Linked DNA regions of Homo sapiens: region 2 is linked to region 1. The links come from fine-mapping of genetic effects on gene expression. A gene starts in region 1. The other region holds a variant in brackets. All regions are shown on one strand. Distances are between the middles of the regions. Region 1 holds the start of COLGALT1 (collagen beta(1-O)galactosyltransferase 1). Region 2 overlaps COLGALT1 (collagen beta(1-O)galactosyltransferase 1).

What was found.
Region 2: its variant is fine-mapped to the expression of COLGALT1 in whole blood (TOPMed, PIP above 0.99).

What each region holds. Positions count from the first base shown.
Region 1 is chr19:17,552,507-17,560,830 of GRCh38, reverse strand. It overlaps COLGALT1 (collagen beta(1-O)galactosyltransferase 1), which reads right to left and starts at 5,182. Exons shown (of 12, transcript NM_024656.4): 1 at 4,858-5,182; 2 at 1,410-1,520; 3 at 366-483. The coding sequence starts at 5,117. NIBAN3 (niban apoptosis regulator 3) reads right to left here. Exons shown (of 15, transcript NM_001321827.2): 15 at 7,191-8,324. RefSeq lists a silencer at 5,015-5,104.
Region 2 is chr19:17,577,337-17,585,660 of GRCh38, reverse strand. COLGALT1 (collagen beta(1-O)galactosyltransferase 1) reads right to left here. Exons shown (of 12, transcript NM_024656.4): 8 at 8,194-8,300; 9 at 7,572-7,704; 10 at 6,052-6,179; 11 at 4,756-4,962; 12 at 2,504-4,484. The coding sequence ends at 4,217. Among named protein-coding and RNA genes, the nearest start is that of COLGALT1, 26 kb to the right of the region's middle. RefSeq lists enhancers at 5,427-5,721, 5,556-5,765. The variant A/G (reference allele first, on the strand shown) is at 3,551.

The DNA.
Region 1 (8,324 bases):
AACCCAGGAGGCAGAGGTTGCAGTGAGCCGATATTGCGGCACTTCACTCCAGCCTGGGCACCAGAGTGAGTCTCTGTCTCAAAAAAATAAAAAAATAAAAATGGACTTGACCCAAGTGTCCAAACACAGGGGACAACTGGGGACAGAAAAGCCCATTCATTCCTAGTGCTGAGGATCAAATGAATCCCAGCTCCTCCTCCACTGACCAACCATATCACCTCAAGCAACTCATCTCCCCTCTCTAAGCCTCAGTTTACCCTTCTGCAAAACAACATTAAGGATGGTCCTGGCATCCTGCTGCTCCGCCTTCCCTGGGGATACCCAGACCTGCCTGTGATCCATATCCGGCCGGCTGAGAAACTTACCAGGATGTAATCAGCCCACATGTCTCGAGCTGATTTCAGGGCTGCCTGGCGCAACTTCATGACATGCTCGTAGCGTGAGTCAGACCAGTGTTTCGGGCCTTCCTCGTCCGGGTAGGACCTATGGGGAGGCAGCTGTGATGTGGACATCACAAGGCACTATCAAAGCCCAGCGAGGGCCTGAGCTGCCTTCGGGGTACTCAGAGAGAGCTTCCTGGAGGAGGGGACGTGTAAGCTGATCTGAGGGATGGGAAAAAGTAAACGACGAGGAAAGAGAAGTGGGGAGAATGTTCCTGGCCGGAGGTACAGCCTGTGCAAAGGCCTGGAGGGAAGAAAGCCCGAGGCACACTGGAGGGAAGGAAGGAAGGAAGCTCAGTGGGGTCCAGTGCAGTGGCCCACGCCTGCGATCCCAGCACTTTGGGAGGCAGAGGTGGGAGGATCGCTTGAGGCCAGCACTTTGAGACCAGCCTGGGCAACACAGTGAGACCCTATCTCTACAAAAAATACAAAAACATTAGCTAGGCATGGTTACATGTGCCTGTAGTCCCAGCTACTCAGGAGGCTGAGGCGGGAGGATGGCTTGAGCCCAGGAGTTAAAGGCTGCAGTAAGCTGTGTTCACTCCACTGCACTCCAGCCTGGGTGAGGGAGTGAGACCCTGTCTCAAAAAAAAAACAAAAACCCAGAAAGGAACTGGGTGGGGGCAGGGAGTCCATGCTGCCCAGGGCTTTAGGGAGTAGATAAACAGCAAAGCCAGTGCTGGGACCAAGACTGAGTCAGTGAGCCAGGGAACAAAGCAGTGGGCGTCCCCAGAAGAAAAAGGGAGTGAAAGAATTCTAGGTACAGGGAACGGCTTGGGCAAAGGTCTGAGAAGAGGATTATGGCCTATTTGTAAAGCTGAGGGAGGCTCAGAGTAGCTTAATGCTGCCTGGCTGGGCTGGAGGCAGGGACTGAGGGCCTGTAATTGTTCTGGGGCAATGGGGAGCCATAGAGGGTGTGTGAGCAGAGGCAAAGCCCAATCAGACTAGGAGCAGGGGAAAGATGCTCACCTGGGCTCCTCTGCTGGCCGCCACTCCACGGAATGGTACAAACTCTTCACGGCCACCAGCCACTCCCGCAGCACAGTTGACGTGTTATCCATGTTGTGGTCCGTAGCCACCCTGCAGGGAGAGGGGACAGGCAGCGTACTTGGGGAGACTGAGGCAGGACCAGGCAGCAGTGAGGCAAGTCAAGGACCACCATCCCCAACTGGCCTCCCACCAGCTATGTATCCCTGGACAGGACACTTCTCCCTTTCCTTTGTTTTTTTTTGAGACAGAGTCTCGCTCTGTTGCCCAGGCTGGAGTGCAGTGGCGCGATCTCGGCTCACTGCAAGCTCCGCCTCCCGGGTTCACGCCTTCTCCTGTCTCAGCCTCCCAAGTAGCTGGGACTACAGGCGCCCGCCACCACACCCGGCTAATTTTTTTGTATTTTTAGTAGAGACGGGGTTTCACCATGTTGGCCAGGCTGGTCTCGATCTCCTGACCTCGTGATCCGCCCACCTTGGCCTCCCAAAGTGCTGGACTTAACAAGCGTGAGCCACCGCGCCCGGCCCATTTCTCCCTTTCCATGTCAGTTTCCTCATCTGTAACATGGGGGTGGGAACAGGACCCAGTTTACTGGGAAGTGGAAGGATTAAACAAGCTGATTTTGGAAAGACCCATTAGTGATTGGCTGTTTTATTACTGAGCATCTAAGATCTTGCAAACCACATTCACTAACAAATATGTGTCACTTAATTTTTTTTTTCTTTTGAGACAGAGTCTTGCTCTGTCACCCAGGCTAGAGTGCAGTGGCACAATCTTGGTTCACTGCAATCTCCGCCTACCAGGTCCAAGCAATTCTCCTGCCTCAGCCTCCCGAGTAGCTGGGATTACAGGTGCCCACCACCATGCCCAGCTAATTTTTGCATTTTTAGTAGAGATGGGGTTTCGCCATGTTGGCCAGGCTGCTCTCGAACTCCTGACCTCAGGTGATCCACCTGCCTCAGCCTCCCAAAGTGCTGGGATGACAGGAATGAGCCACCGCACACGGCAATTTTTGTAATGTATAGATCAGGCCAGGCACGGTGGCTCACGCCTGTCATCCCAGCACTTTGAGAGGCCGAGGCGGGTGTATCACCTGAGGTCAGGAGTTTGAGACCAGCCTGGCCAACATGGCGAAACCCCATCTCTACTAAAAATACAAAAATTAGGCCGGGCATGGTGGCTCACGCTTGTAATTCCAGCACTTTGGGAGGCCGAGGCGGGTGAATCACTTGAGGCCAGGAGTTTGAGCCTAGCCTGGCCAACATGGTGAAATCCCATCTCTACTAAAAACACAAAAAATTAGCTGGGTGTGGTGGCGGGCACCTGTAATCCCAGCTACTCAGGAGGCCGAGGCAGGAGAATCGCTTGAACCTGGGAGGAGGAGGTTGCAGTGAGCCGAGATCGTGCCACTGCACTCCAGCCTCAGCAACGAGAGCGAGACTCAGTCTCAAAAAATAAATAAATAAAAAATATTAAAAAATGAAATGTATATATCAGAAACCAGCTGGGTGCAATGGCTCACGCCTGTAATCCCAATATGTTGGGAGGCCGAGGTGGGCAGGTCACTTGAGCTCGGGAGTTCGAGACCAGCCTGGCCAATAGGGCAAAACCCCATCTCTAGAAAAAATACAAAAATTAGCTGGGCGCAGTGGCATACGCCTGTAGTCCCAGTTACTCAAGAAGCTGAGGCAGGAGAATCACTTGAGCCCAGGAGGGGGAAGTTGCAGTGAGCTAGGATTGCACCACTGCACTCCCGCCTGGGCGACAGATGTAAAACCCTGTATCAAAAAAAAAAGTATATCTCAGCAGGGCGCTGTGGCTCATGCCTGTAATCCCAGCACTTAGGGAGGCCGAGGCAGGCAGATCATGAGGTCAGGAGATCAACACAAGCCTGGCCACAATGGTGAAACCCTGACTCTATTAAAAATACAAAAATTAGCCAGGCATGGTGGTGCGCACCTGTAATCCCAAGCTACTCGGGAGGCTGAGGCAGGAGAATCACTTGAACCCGGAGGCGGAGGTTGCAATGAGCTGAGATCGTGTCACTGTACTCCAGCCTGGGCGACAGAGCAAGATTCCGTCTGAGAGAAAAAAAAAAGTATATCTCAAAGTATATCTCATAAATCCCTTACCCTGCCTTCATCTTCTCCTGTGAGCCACACCACTTCAGTGGGCTGCAGTCAATTATTCATTCAACAAACATTTGTTAAGTACCAATTGTGTATTTGGATTATCCAGACTGAGAAATCAGGTGGAAGGAAAAGCGACATTTGGGAGTTTAGTTTGACCGTAGTGCCAAAAGCTAATTCTGCCCAATAAATTAAGTTGACAATAACACCAGCAATGACAGTAATCATGATAATAAAATCACTGAGAGCCAAGCCCATGCCAGACCCAAGGGCTCCACATCCATTAACTGGATAATCTTCAGAGACAAACCCAAAAAGAGAATTATATTAATACGCTCATTTTCTTTTCTTTTTCTTTTTTTAGAGGCAGGTCTTACTCTGTAGCCCAGGCTGGAGTGCAGTGGTGCAATCATAGGTCACTGCAGCCTCGAACTCCTGGGCTCAAGCGATTCTCCTGCGTCAGCCTCCTGAATAGCTGGGACTACAGGCACACACCACCGCACCTGGCTAATTTTTGTATTTTTTTTCTAGAGACGGGGTTTTGCCATGTTGGCAAGGCTGGTGTCGAACTCCTGAGCTCAAGTGACCCGCTTACCTTGGCCTCCCAAATTGCTAGGATTACTGCGTGAGCCACTGCACCCGGACCCATTTTCCATTTGAGAAAACTGAGGCAGGGAGTGAGAAGTCACCAGTCAAAGGTTTCTTCAGAGCTCTGCCCCATTCCCTACCAAGAAAGCATCCACTTCCTCCTGGGCCATCTGGTCCTGGACTCCACCCACGCCGGTCTGAGGGCAGGGGTTTGACTGGGGCCTGGAGCCAGGCTGAGTTCAAGCTTAAGGGCAGCAGCCGGCACAGAAAGGCTTGCTGTTAGATGTGGCCTCTGGCAACGCCCCAGTGGGGGCTCTGGGCTCCGTCCTTTGGAGGTGTACGTGCCCCAGAGGGAGTTAGAGCCCCAGTTAGTGAGGCCGGAGCTGCCCTAGTAGGGTCCAGCAGGCAGAAGCGGTGCCCAGCCCACCCCAAAGGAGCCAGCAGGAGGAACTCGGTCCCGCTTGTGTTGTGGGGAGGGCTGTGTCTGGCCCCATGGGAGGACAGCAGGCAGGGGGCACGCGTGGACCCGTCCCGATGGGGGCAGCGGGCAGGGGCATGCGTAGAACCGTCCCGATGGGGGTAGCGAGCAGGAAGCACGCGCGGACCCGCCCAGAAGAGGACAGCGGGCAGGGGCTCGCGTGGACCCACCCCTATGGGGACAGCAAGCAGGGGCTCGCGTGACCCGCCTGATGGGGACAGCGGGCTCGACTCACCATAGCGCCGTGCGCTCCCGCGGGTGCCGCAGCCGCTCGAGTGCGCCCAGCGTGGTGGGCAACGCGTGGGCCGCGTTTCGCGCCAACAGCGCGATGAGCACGCGCGGCGCCTGCAGGGGCGACTCCGGGCTCCAGCGCTCCTCGGGGAAGTAGGCGTCGGCGCCCGGCGGGGCCCCCGGCGGCAGTGGCGCCAGCAGCAGAAGCAGCAGCGCCAGGAGCGGCTGCCCGCGCCGCCGGCCCGCGCGTGGGGCCGCCGCCATCGCGCCACGCGTCTCCTTTAAGTCGTTTTTCTGCGGGAGGACTCTGGCCGCGCCTTAAAGGGGTCATAGGGGCCCCGCCCGGCCGCGCGCCTTAAAGGGGAGGAGCGCGCCGGGCGTGAAGTCCAGGCCCCGCCTCCAGACGCTCTCCGAGTCCCAAGGCCCGGAGTGACGTCACCTGCAGCCCTACCCAGGACGCCCCGCCCCCGCACCGATCTTAAAGGCACATAGCGCTCGGAGCGCGTGGAAGGGATGTTAGGGGTAGCGTTAGGGTTAGGAACCCGCGCTTCCTCCAGGCGCCTCCTACCACTGAGACCTCCGCCAGATGCGCCGCCCAATTTCCCCATGTATAAAACCCGGGCTGTGCCACCAGGCGGACTTGGCTACTTAGGACCTGGTTTGGGACCCAAGAGACCTTAGCCTCAGTTTCCTCTGCTGCAACGTGGGTTTTGCCATCCTGGTTTTGGATCTCACAGGGATGTCATTGAGGGTTGTGGAGAATAAAGGTCATGACGTCCACAGACCTGGCGTCACATTCAGTCCCCGCCTTGGGCTTGCTATATGTGAGCCTCAGTCTGTCCATCTATAAAATGAGATCATAGAGACCCTATAGGGTTGGCGTGAAAATAGAGCCAGGGCATGATAATGGACCGTTCTGGGCACAAGCTCTTCCAGAGACAAGGGCCATGTTTTCATGGAAACGCTGTCAAGGGATTGTTTTCCAATACTCTAGAGCCGCATTTTCAAATTGATTGACTTAGTATCACACTTTTTTTTTTTTTTTTTTGAGACGGAGTCTGGCTTTGTTGCCCGGGCTGGAGTGCAGTGGTGCAACATAGCAAGACCGTGCCTCTATTTTTAAAAACAATAAAAACTTTAAAAAATACATCTGAACATTATTATTATTATTATTATTATTTTCTTTTTTTTTTTTTTTGAGACAGCGTCTCACTCCATTGCCCCGGCTAGAGTACAGTGGCGCGATCTCGGCTCACTGCAACCTCCGCCTCCCGGGTTCAAGCGATTCTCCTGCTTCAGCCTCCTGAGTAGCTGGGACTACAGGCACGCGCCACCACGCCCGGCTAATTTTTGTTTATAGTAGAGATGGGGTTTCACCATATTGGCCAGGCTGGTCTCGAACTCCTGACCTCCTGATCCGCCCACCTCAGCCTCCCAAAGTGCTGGGATTACAGGCGTGAGCCACCGCGCCCAGCTTATTATTATTTTCACAGAGAGGGTCTTACTCTGTGGCTCAGGCTAGAGTGCAGTGGCATGATCACATGATCATGGCTCACTGCAGCCTCAACCTCCTGGGCTCAACTGATCCTCCTGCCTCAGCCTCCCAAGTAGCTGGGACTACAAGTGCACTCAACCACGCCCAGCTAATTTTTAAATTTTTTGTAGAGATGGAGTCTCGCTATGTTGCCCCGGCTGTTCTCAAACTCCTGGTCTCAAGTAATCCTCCCCCTTCAGCCTCCCAAACTGCTGGGATTACCAGTGAGCCATCATGCCCCGCTAAAACTTAATTTTTAAGAATGATACAGGCCAGGTGCAGTGGCTCACGCCTGTAATCCCAGCATTTTGGGAGGCTGAGGCAGGCGGATCACTTGAGGTCAGGAGTTCGAGACCAGCTTGGTCAATATGGTGAAGCCCCCATCTCTTCTAAAAACACAAAAAATTAGCCGGTCATGGTGGCGCTTCGCCTGTAATCCCAGCTACTACGGAGGCCGAGGCAGGAGAATCACTTGAACCCAGGAGGTGGAGGTTGCAGTGAGCCAAAATCGCACCACTGCATTCCAGCCTGGGTGACAGAGTGAGACACCGTCTCAAAAAAAAAAAAAAAAAGGTAAAAACAAATTTACACTCTGTGGACTTGATGAGGAAAGGTCTTTTCATATTAAGTAAGAAAAAGGAGGTGACAAGATACATCCCATCCCATCTGGAAGGATTTAGACCCAAGGGCAAACAATGTTTTTCTCAAAAGGGGCAGGATGACAAATTCTTGTAGCTGCAATTGTTCCAGAATTAACATCTACATCCCGTCCGGGGTAAAAGGAAGACAGCTAAAGAAGCCTATGAAGTGCAAATGTATTGAGCAAATGTATTTCGGAAGGTGGGGTTGGAGGGAAATAGGTGGAAAGGTCAGGAATATCTCATTGTCTTGGGGTAGGCCGAAAACTCCAGACAGAATGGGAGGAAACGGTCTCCAGGGAGTGTGAAAGTCCCTCTGCAAGCTGAACCAAGAACACACGGGAATCCCTGTGGAACCCACTCCGGAAGCAGCTGCAAGACAGCAGAGAAGCTGCCAATATCCAGTTAGCAGATGACTTTGCTGGCAAGCAGAGGAAGTCGGTAAAAGCTTGTCTCCCAGCCAGGAAACTTGACACCAAGTTAAGATTTGGAGCTAGGAAACAAACCCAAAAGGCTCACAGCAAGCGGAGAAAAAAACCCCAAAATCTGTAACCTGTATCACAAAGCGTTCATATCCTTCAGATATAAAGAGTTATTAGATATCAATAAGAAAAATGCAAACACTCCTGAAAAGTAGAAAAAAGCTATGAACAGGCAATTCACTGAAATTAAAAAAAAAAAAACTACAAACATGTAAATGGCTAATCAACATATTTGGATTTTGTTTTTTGAGACAGGGTCTCACTCCCATCACCCAGGCTGGAGTGCAGTGGTGCAATCACCACTCACTGCAGCCTTGAGTTCCCAGGCTCAGGTAAATCTCCCATCTCAGCCCAGCTTCTTTTAAATTTTATTTATTTATTTATTTATTTATTTATTTATTTATTTATTTTATTTTTTAGTAGAGACAGGTTTCACCACATTGCCCAAGCTGGCCTCAAAACTCCTTGGCTCAAGCAATCCACCTGTCTCAGCCTCCCAAAGTGCTGGGATGACAGGCGTGAGCCACCACTCCCGGCCGCTAATTTTGTATTTTTTGTAGAGATGAGGTCTCACTATGTTCGCCAGGCTGGTCTTGAACTCCTGAGCTCAAGTGATCTGCCCGCCTCAGCCTCCCAAAGTGCTGGGATTACAGGTGTGCACTGCCACGCCTGGCCATAATAAACTTATTTGTAAGTTCAATTTAGTCAAAGAAATTCAAAATAAAATCATGAGATTTCTGTGTGTGTCTAACTGGCATAGCTTTTTTCTTTTCATGAAAAGTCCTAGTGTTTAGAAAGGATTTGGAGGCTGGACATA
Region 2 (8,324 bases), 25 kb before region 1:
GTAATCTATTACTCAGGAGGCTGAGGCAGGAGAATTGCTTGAACCCAGGAGGCGGAGGTTGCAGTGAGTCAAGATCGTATCACTGCTCTCCAGCCTGGGTGACAGAGTGTGACTCCGTCTCAAAAAGCAAAACAAAACAAACAAAAAAACACAAAAAAACAAAAAATCCAGTAGGAAAGATGTATTGTATAATGCTATCCACTGCAGGAAACAGCAGGGAATATTTTCCATAACAATCCAAAAAGAGCTCGTAGATGTTAACCCTATTTTGGAAAGGAGGTCCACAATAGTTGTTAAATTTAAAAATAAAAGTTGTTTTTTAAAAAATAGGTACAGTTTGATCCCATGCTTAGAAAATAAAAGTGCATTCCACGAAAAATAAAACGGCAAGTTGCAGTAGCTTAGGTAACATGGTCCTCCTTTTTTAAAAAATGCATATATATTTACACCATGCAAATAAGGAAGGCTGGAAAGTTTTTGAAAATGTTAGTTGTGTCTGAAAAGGTGTGATTTAATTTTTGCTTTGTCAATTTGCTTAGCTGTAAGTTCTGATTTTTTCCACACTGATTGAACACCATCAGTGTTAGGGTTTTTTGTTGTTGTTTGTTTTTTGTTTTTTGAGACAAGAGTGTTGCTCTGTCGCCCAGGCTGGAGTGCAGTGGCGTGATCTCGGCTCACTACAACCTCCGCCTCCCAGGTTCAAGTGATTCTTCTGCCTCAGCCTCCAAGTAGCTGGGACTACAGGCGCTCACCACCATGCCCAGCTAATTTTTCTGTATTTTTAGTAGAGACGGGGTTTCACCATATTGGCCAGGCTGGTCTCGAACTCCTGACCTCATGATCCACCAGCCTCGGCCTCCCAAAGTGCTGGGATTACAGGTGTGAGCCACCGCGCCTGGCCCCTGTGTTAGTTTATAAAAGTCTCGGGTATATTCTTGCACACCCTAAAGGTGTAATAATCCAGAGGATTTGTAAGCATTTGACCCAGAAAATCCAAATGCAACTGGGCATGTTGTAATGTCCAGCCCCCTCTCCCTGGGGTGGGACCACTCTTTCCCTTCTTGTCTCACTTCCCTACTGCTCCACAGCAAGTTCCTGGGGTCACTGATAACGTAAGTGCCCTTCAATCCTCATCTTGGAGTCTGTTTCAGGGGACCCAAACCATGACAGCCCCTCCTCATTTGAAGTCATCTGCGACGATCCTGTGGTTGATCCAAGATAGAATGAAGTTGGCCACCTGTCCCTGGGCTATTTCAGGGAAGTTTTCTGGTTTTGTTTTATAGAAACAGGGTCTTGCTCTGTTGCCCAGGCTGGAGTGCAGTGGTGTGATCATGGTTCACTGCAGCCTCAACCTCCTAGACTCAAGAGATACTCCTGCTTCAGCCTCCTGAGTAGCCAGATTACAGGTGTGCCCTACCATGCCCAACTAATTTCTCAATTTTTTTTGTAGAGACGAGGGTCTCACTCTGTTGCCCAAGCTGGTCTTGAGCTCCTGACCTCAAGCAATCCTCTCACCTCCTCAACCTCCCAAAGCATTGGGATTATAGGAGTGAGCCACCTCACCCAGCCTAATCCTTTTTTTTTTTTGAGATGGAGTCTCATTCTGTTGCCCAGGCTGGAGTGCAGTGGCAAGATTTCAGCTCACTGCAACCTCCACCTCCTGCGTTCAAGCGATTCTCCTGCCTCAGCCTCCCAAGTAGCTGGGACTACTGTCACACACCACCATGCCTGGCTGCTTTTTGCATTTTTAGTAGAGACGGGATTTCATCTTATTGATCAGGCTGGTCTCGAACTCCTGACCTCAGGTGATCCACCCACCTTGGCCTCCCAAAGTGCTGGGATTACAGGCGTGAACCACCATGCCCAGCCCTAATCCTCATGTTGAGGTCTGTTTTAGGGGGACTCAAAGCACGACAGCCCCTCTTTATTCGAAGTCATGTGGAAGGATCCTGAAGTTGACTCAAGACAGAGCTGTCGGTCCCCCGCCTGTTTGGGGGAAGTTTTATGGCATGAGGGGACACAGGGCTCTTACCACACCCTCACCCCACAGTAGCTCCACTGGCCAGCTTTTTTTTTTTTTTTTTGGTTTGATTGTGTCTTGCTCTGCCGCCCAGGCTGGAGGGCAGTGGCTCAATCTTGGGTCACTGCAACCTCCACCTCCCAGGTTCAAGCGATTCTCCTGCCTCAGCCTCCCAAGTAGCGAGGATTACAGGTACCCCCCCCCCGCCACCCCGCCCCACTACACTAGGCTAATTTTTGTACTTTTAATAGAGAGGGGGTTTCACCATGTTGGCCAGGCTGGTCTTGAATTCCTGACCTCAAGTGATCCGCCCACCTTAGCCTCCCAAAGCACCGGGATTACAGGCATGAGCCACCATGCCAGGCCCCACTGGGCAGCTTCCCTACTGCACCTGCCCTGGTTTCCTCCCAAATCTTGTCGGCCATCCAGGGGTGGGGAACGTGGGCAGTGTTTTGGTGCCGAGCAAAATCCCACAAACTGCTGTGAAAACCAACCAGGAACATTTATTAAAAAACTAAGCAAGTTATCCCCAAGAGGGTGAAGCACCGCTGGCTGGTTCTGACATTCGATTCAGGCTGAAGGCACGGCAACTCCTCCAGCCCTTGCTGGGAAATGTCCTACCCAGGCCACGGGCAGTGCCCCAGTGCAGCTGGGTCCCCTAAAAGCCCCCAAACACATGATCCCACCAAAGGCTTGAACAGAGCAACTTCATCAAGCAGGCAGGGACCACACCTGAGACACAAGGGCAAGGAGGTAAAGCACAGGGGACCGGGAGTGGGCCAGGGACACCCAGCCCCCGTCTCCAACTGGCGCCCCCTCCAGGGGGGCTAACATGTGGCGTGGGGCCACCAGGACCTGTGCTTGCCCCTGGTGGCGGAAGAGCTACCCTCCCTCTTGGGTGGTGGGGGGATGTTGTCTGCACACAGCTCAGACGACCGAGGGTACAGGAAGAATCAAACTCAGTCAACCATTCTTCAACCCAACTGGGAGTCTGTGAGGCCTGGCACACAGGTGCTCAATAAACACTTGTGGCATGAAGAAGTGAAGGAACCGATCTTGTTCATCTCTGTGCCCCAGCACTCGGCATGTAGCCCATGATCGAAAATGCAGACTGAACAACTGTCACACTCTTTTGTATCACTAGTGCCCGGCACACAGTCAGTGCTCTTCAGGTGTGTGGGAAAGAAGCCAATGAGTGAGAAGTTCCCACACCGTCTAGCAGTGAGGAAAAAAAGAAAAAAGTAAAAAGTACCTTGTTTACTCCCATTCCCATCCCATAGCTCAGCTCCCTGCACACAGCAGGTGCTCAGTAAGTGTACCGAATCAGGAACTTATCTTTGTGACATGAGTGCCAGGCACACAGTAGGTGACCAATATGTGCTTGAATAAATGGATAGAAGCATCTTATTTATCTCAATATTCCCAGAGCCTGGGCTGGGCACAGTGGCTCATGCCTGTAACCCTAGCACTTTGGGTGGCCAAGGCGGGCAGATCACTTGAGGTCAGGAGTTCGAGACCAGCCTGGCCAAC[A/G]TGGTGAAACCCCGTCTCTACTAAAAATACAAAAACTAGCCAGATGTGATGGCACGCACCTATAGTCCCAGCTACTTGGGAGGCCGAGAAACAAGAATTGCTGGACGCTGGGAGGCGCAGGCTGCAGTGAGCCGTCACACCACTGCACTCCAGCCTGGGTGACAGAGACAGACTCTACTCTTAAAAAAAAAAAAAAAAAAATCCCAGAGCCTGGAATGGCACCCAACACACAGTAGGCACTCAATAAATCCTTGAATGAATTTTAAAAATGAATGTGTATCACTAGTGCCTGATTCTTAATCTGATCAGTAACTGCTTGATGACTGAATCAATCGCTGATGGAGGGAACAATTATGCCTCATTCACTGCCGTAACATGGGAACCTTGCATACAGCAGGTGCTTAATAAATGCTGGGCACATGAACAGATGAAGAGGGCTTGGTTCCTCCCAATTCCCCAGGGCCAAGCCCTGTTGCTGGCATGCAGTAGGCACTCCATTAATGCTGCCTGTGTGCACGTGATTGCTTAGCAAGAGCTGGCTGGACACCACCCCACACGAGAGCCCTCTGTGGCCTGCCAAGGGGTCCAGAGGTGGACCTGATGTCCTCAGTAAGCACGTGGAGCCTGGGCCACCGATGGCTGCTTTGGCTTTCTGGCTGCTACCCCTCAGAGTTCATCCCGGGCAGCACTGTCCAGTGGGGACTGGAGCACGTCCGAGTTCTTGGCCTCACGGCTCAGTGCCTGCTGCTCCCGCATCTTCTGGGACTTGGCGCGGTCCCAGTCGGTCTTGACGTGCTCATTGTTCCATACGACTGAGGTCTCGGTGTCACTCACATAGCCATCGTCTCCTGTGTAGTGTGTGGGGTAGATGAGCAGCGGCTCCACAGAGAAGGCATGCAGGTTGCGGAGGGAGAAGTGGGCCTTGTACTCGGACCTGGGGGGAGGAGGAGGGGAGTGAGGGGCAGCAATGGCTTCAGGGGACGGGACAGCTGGAGGAAAAATTGGGGGTGAAGAAGTCAGCGGGGACAGATTAAAACGTAAGTGTGCAGGGGATACAAATGGAGACAGATCTGCGAGGGGGCAAACGGAGGGAGAAGTAGGCAAAAGAAGAGACATCTTCTCGGAGGCCGTGAGTCTCACATCCCCATTCTCCCAGGACAGACCCACCGTGAAACCCCAGCCCAGCAGCCGCCTGCCCCTCTCACACTGGGTGTTTGTCGAACATGACGGGCAGGAACTCGTCCACAGGCAGCATCTTGGAGAGCGGCTCAGCAGCCAGCAGTTTGCGGGCGCCTTGCAGGGAGATCACGTAGGCCAGGGTCCAGTAGGAATAGTCGGCCTCCACCAGGTTCCTCACGCGAGGCACAGCCTTCTCGGGGTGCTCCACCTGCATCCGCTTCCGGCCCACATAGCTGGGGTGCAAGATCGGGCCTGTCACTCTCCTCCCGCCCTCCGGAGGGAGCTTGCCCAGAAAGCCAGGGATCTAGTTACCCCGTCAGGTCCTGGGATGGGAGCAGGCTCAGCATGTTTGCAGAGCTCTGTGACTGGATGGAGTGAATGCAGGAGCCCAGGGGTCTGGCGGTCATGGGGGAGAAGAGTGAGTTTTTCCAAAGGGCGTGAGGGAGCCATGGAGGATCTGGAGCTGGGGAGAGCAGGATCACGCAGACGTTCTCTGAGGCTGAAGCTGCTCTGAGTTCAGAGGACAGTGGGGGTGGAGGTGGGCGAGGTGCCCTGATGGGGGGGCAGTCAGGAATGGAGGGGTGCAGTTACTATTCACATGGGGCAGTGTTCCCAGAATGCAGATTAGGGCACTGCACATGGAAGGGAAAAAAGAGATGGAGGAAGGGAGAGGACAAACCAGCCCACTTACAGAAGAGAAGGACGGCTCCAGTGCTGGAAACATGTTGGTGGCACTCCCATCCAGGGGCTTGTCTAAGACCAGGCGCCCTGGCCACGCCCCCACACTCTTCGGCCACACCTCCAGCTCTGACCACACCCCCATGCTCTTCAGCCACGCCCACAGGCTGCCCGGTCAAATTTTAGCCACATCCACCTCCACAGGCCTCAGTCAAGTCTCTAAGCCTTGACCAAGCCTGCAGGCTTCCGGCCAGGTCCCTTGAGTTCTGGGTGATCCTTCCAACGCCCTTCCCTATAGGCTACAGCCCTGACAGTGCCTTCAGGCCCAGGAACCACGTGAGCCCTCCTGCTACGCTTCCAAGGGTTGGCCACGCCTGCCACCCTGACCACACCCAGACATACAGGCTCTAGGCTCAGCTGCAGCGCTGTGGCCACGCCCGTAGGATTCAGCTCCACTCCGCCTCCCAGCCCCACCTCTAAGCCCTGGCCATGTACCTAGGCTCCAGTTCCACCCCACCTTCAAGCCCCGCCTCTAAGCCATGACCCATCCCCAGGTCCCAGCTCCACCCTGCCCCCACCCCCACCTCTAAGTCCTGGCCTTGCCCCAGGCCCCAGCTTCACCCCATCCTCAGACCCCCACTCACATGAGGTCCCAGTCCAGGCCCTCCCGCTCCACATCCCGCATGAGGTTCATCAGACGTCTCTTGAAGAAGATCTCAAAACGCAGGTCATCCTCAAACACAAGCGATTTCTGCAGCCCCCGGTCCACCACCTGAGGGAGGAAGCCCCGCCACATCACAGGGAGGCCAAGGCCAGGCCTGACCCTAAAGCACAGAGCTTTGCTTTGAGAAGGTTTGAAAGACCCGTAGAGAAGCCAGTGCATCTCCCTGCCTCTCCTAGCTCCAGGGACATCTGGACATCCAAACCTCTGCCCTCTGCCGTCCATAATGGATCTCAGAAGAGAAAGGCCTCCCAGCCCCTCAAATGCCCACGCCTCATGCACCTCCCGCCTTGCAGCCGCACACCCCCATTTGGCTTCACATTCGATAACAAGTTTTTCTTTTCTTTTTCTTTTTTTTTTTTTTTGAGACGGAGTCTCGCCCTGTCGCCCAGGCTGGAGTGCAGTGGAACGATCTCAACTGCAACCTCCGCCTCCCAGGTTCAAGTAATTCTGCCTCAGCCTCCTGAGCAGCTGGGATTACAGGCATGTGCCACTACGCCCGGATTTTATTTTTCTTTTTTTGAGATGGAGTGTCACTCTTGTCGCCCAGGCTGGAGTGCAATGGCATGATTTCAGCCCACTGCAACCTCTGCCTCCTGGGTTCAAGTGATTCTCCTGCCTCAGTCTCCCAAGTAGAGGGATTACAGGTGCCCACCACCACACCCAGATAATTTTTGTATTTTTAGTAGAGTCTAGGTTTCACCATGTTGGCCAGGCTGGTCTTGAACTCCTGACCTAAGGTGATCCGCCTGCCTCGGCCTCCCAAAGTGCTGAGATTACAGGCATGAGCCACCACGCCCAGCCATTTTTCTTTTTTCTGAGACACGGTTTTGCTCTGCTGTCCAGTCTGCAGTGCAGTGGCACGATCTTGGCTGACTGCAGCCTTAACTCCTGGGCTCAAGCCACTCTCCCACTTTAGCCTCCCAAATAGTTGGGACCACAGGTGTGCGCCACCATGCCCGGCCCTGATGGCCCAAGTTCGAAGCCTAGTCAGACACCCTCCTCCAATCACAGCCTCTCCCTCTGAGGGTGGATGAGGATGCCTGGGCTGGTGAGTGCCCCCAGCAGCACTGGGCAGGTGCTGGTTTAAAGTGGCTCTGTGGCCATGACTTCTAGTACTAAACATCAAGCACAGAGACCAGGCTGGGAGTAATGAGGATTTGTTTACAGGTCCCAGGCCCCAGACACCACCTGCTGCTCAAAAGGGCTCACCCCTACCCCCAGGCTCAGTTTCCACATTTGCGCAATGGAAGGATGGCAGGTACACCTGGGGGTGATACAGCTGGTGTGGCGCATCATTCACTAAAGAGAGGCCATGGGTCCCATGGCTGAGGCTGGATGCCTAGCCGGGGCTTTGGGGAACTCTTTCAACCCCTTTCCCGTCCAAATCTCCGATGAGATCTAGAGTCATAACTCTGGCCCCGCCCATCACTCAGGACACACCTCCTTCCAGATGTTGTAGTGGCTCAGGAAGCAGCCCAGCTCACCCTTGGTGAGGGGCCGGCCGTGGTAGGGGTCCCGGTAGCCAGGCAGCATCTGGATCCCCAGCGCCTCCACCTGGCTGGTGTTCATGGCTCTGGAGAGGAGGAGGAGAGGGTCACGAAGAAGGTTCACCCTGCCTGCCATTCTGCCATCCCCGGCCATTCCACCACCCCCTGCGGCGTTGAGCAGCTGGTCCACCTCTTGTAGCACTGGCACCCCTTCCGGGCACATGGGGCCTCACTCACCTGCACATGGTATACACTCGCGGGCAAACCTGCTCTCCTCCTCTCCTGGGGTCTGACTGACTTACCCCTCCACAGTCCCCACCAGTCTACACTGGCAGCATGCAAACCTACCCATTCCCCTGGGTCAGGACTCACTTGCCTTCCATGGTCTACAACTGTGAGGATCTGCCCCTTCCCCAGGGTCCCATTCACTTCCCCTTCAGGACGCCCACTGACGAGGTCTACATCTGTTTGGACACCACGCCCGCCCCCATCTGAATCACTTGCCGTCTACCAGCGAGGTCTACACCCACATCCACGTGCGGACCCGCCCCCCCACCCCCAGGCCTCGGACTCACTTGCCGTCCACGGCCTCCACCAGCCGGCACTCGATCTCCTGTGCCTGCAGCGCCCGCAGCATGCGCTCCCGCCGGTCCTGCCGCCGCCTCAGGTTGATCATGAAGACCTGCAGCCCGGAGAGTCCCCAGCC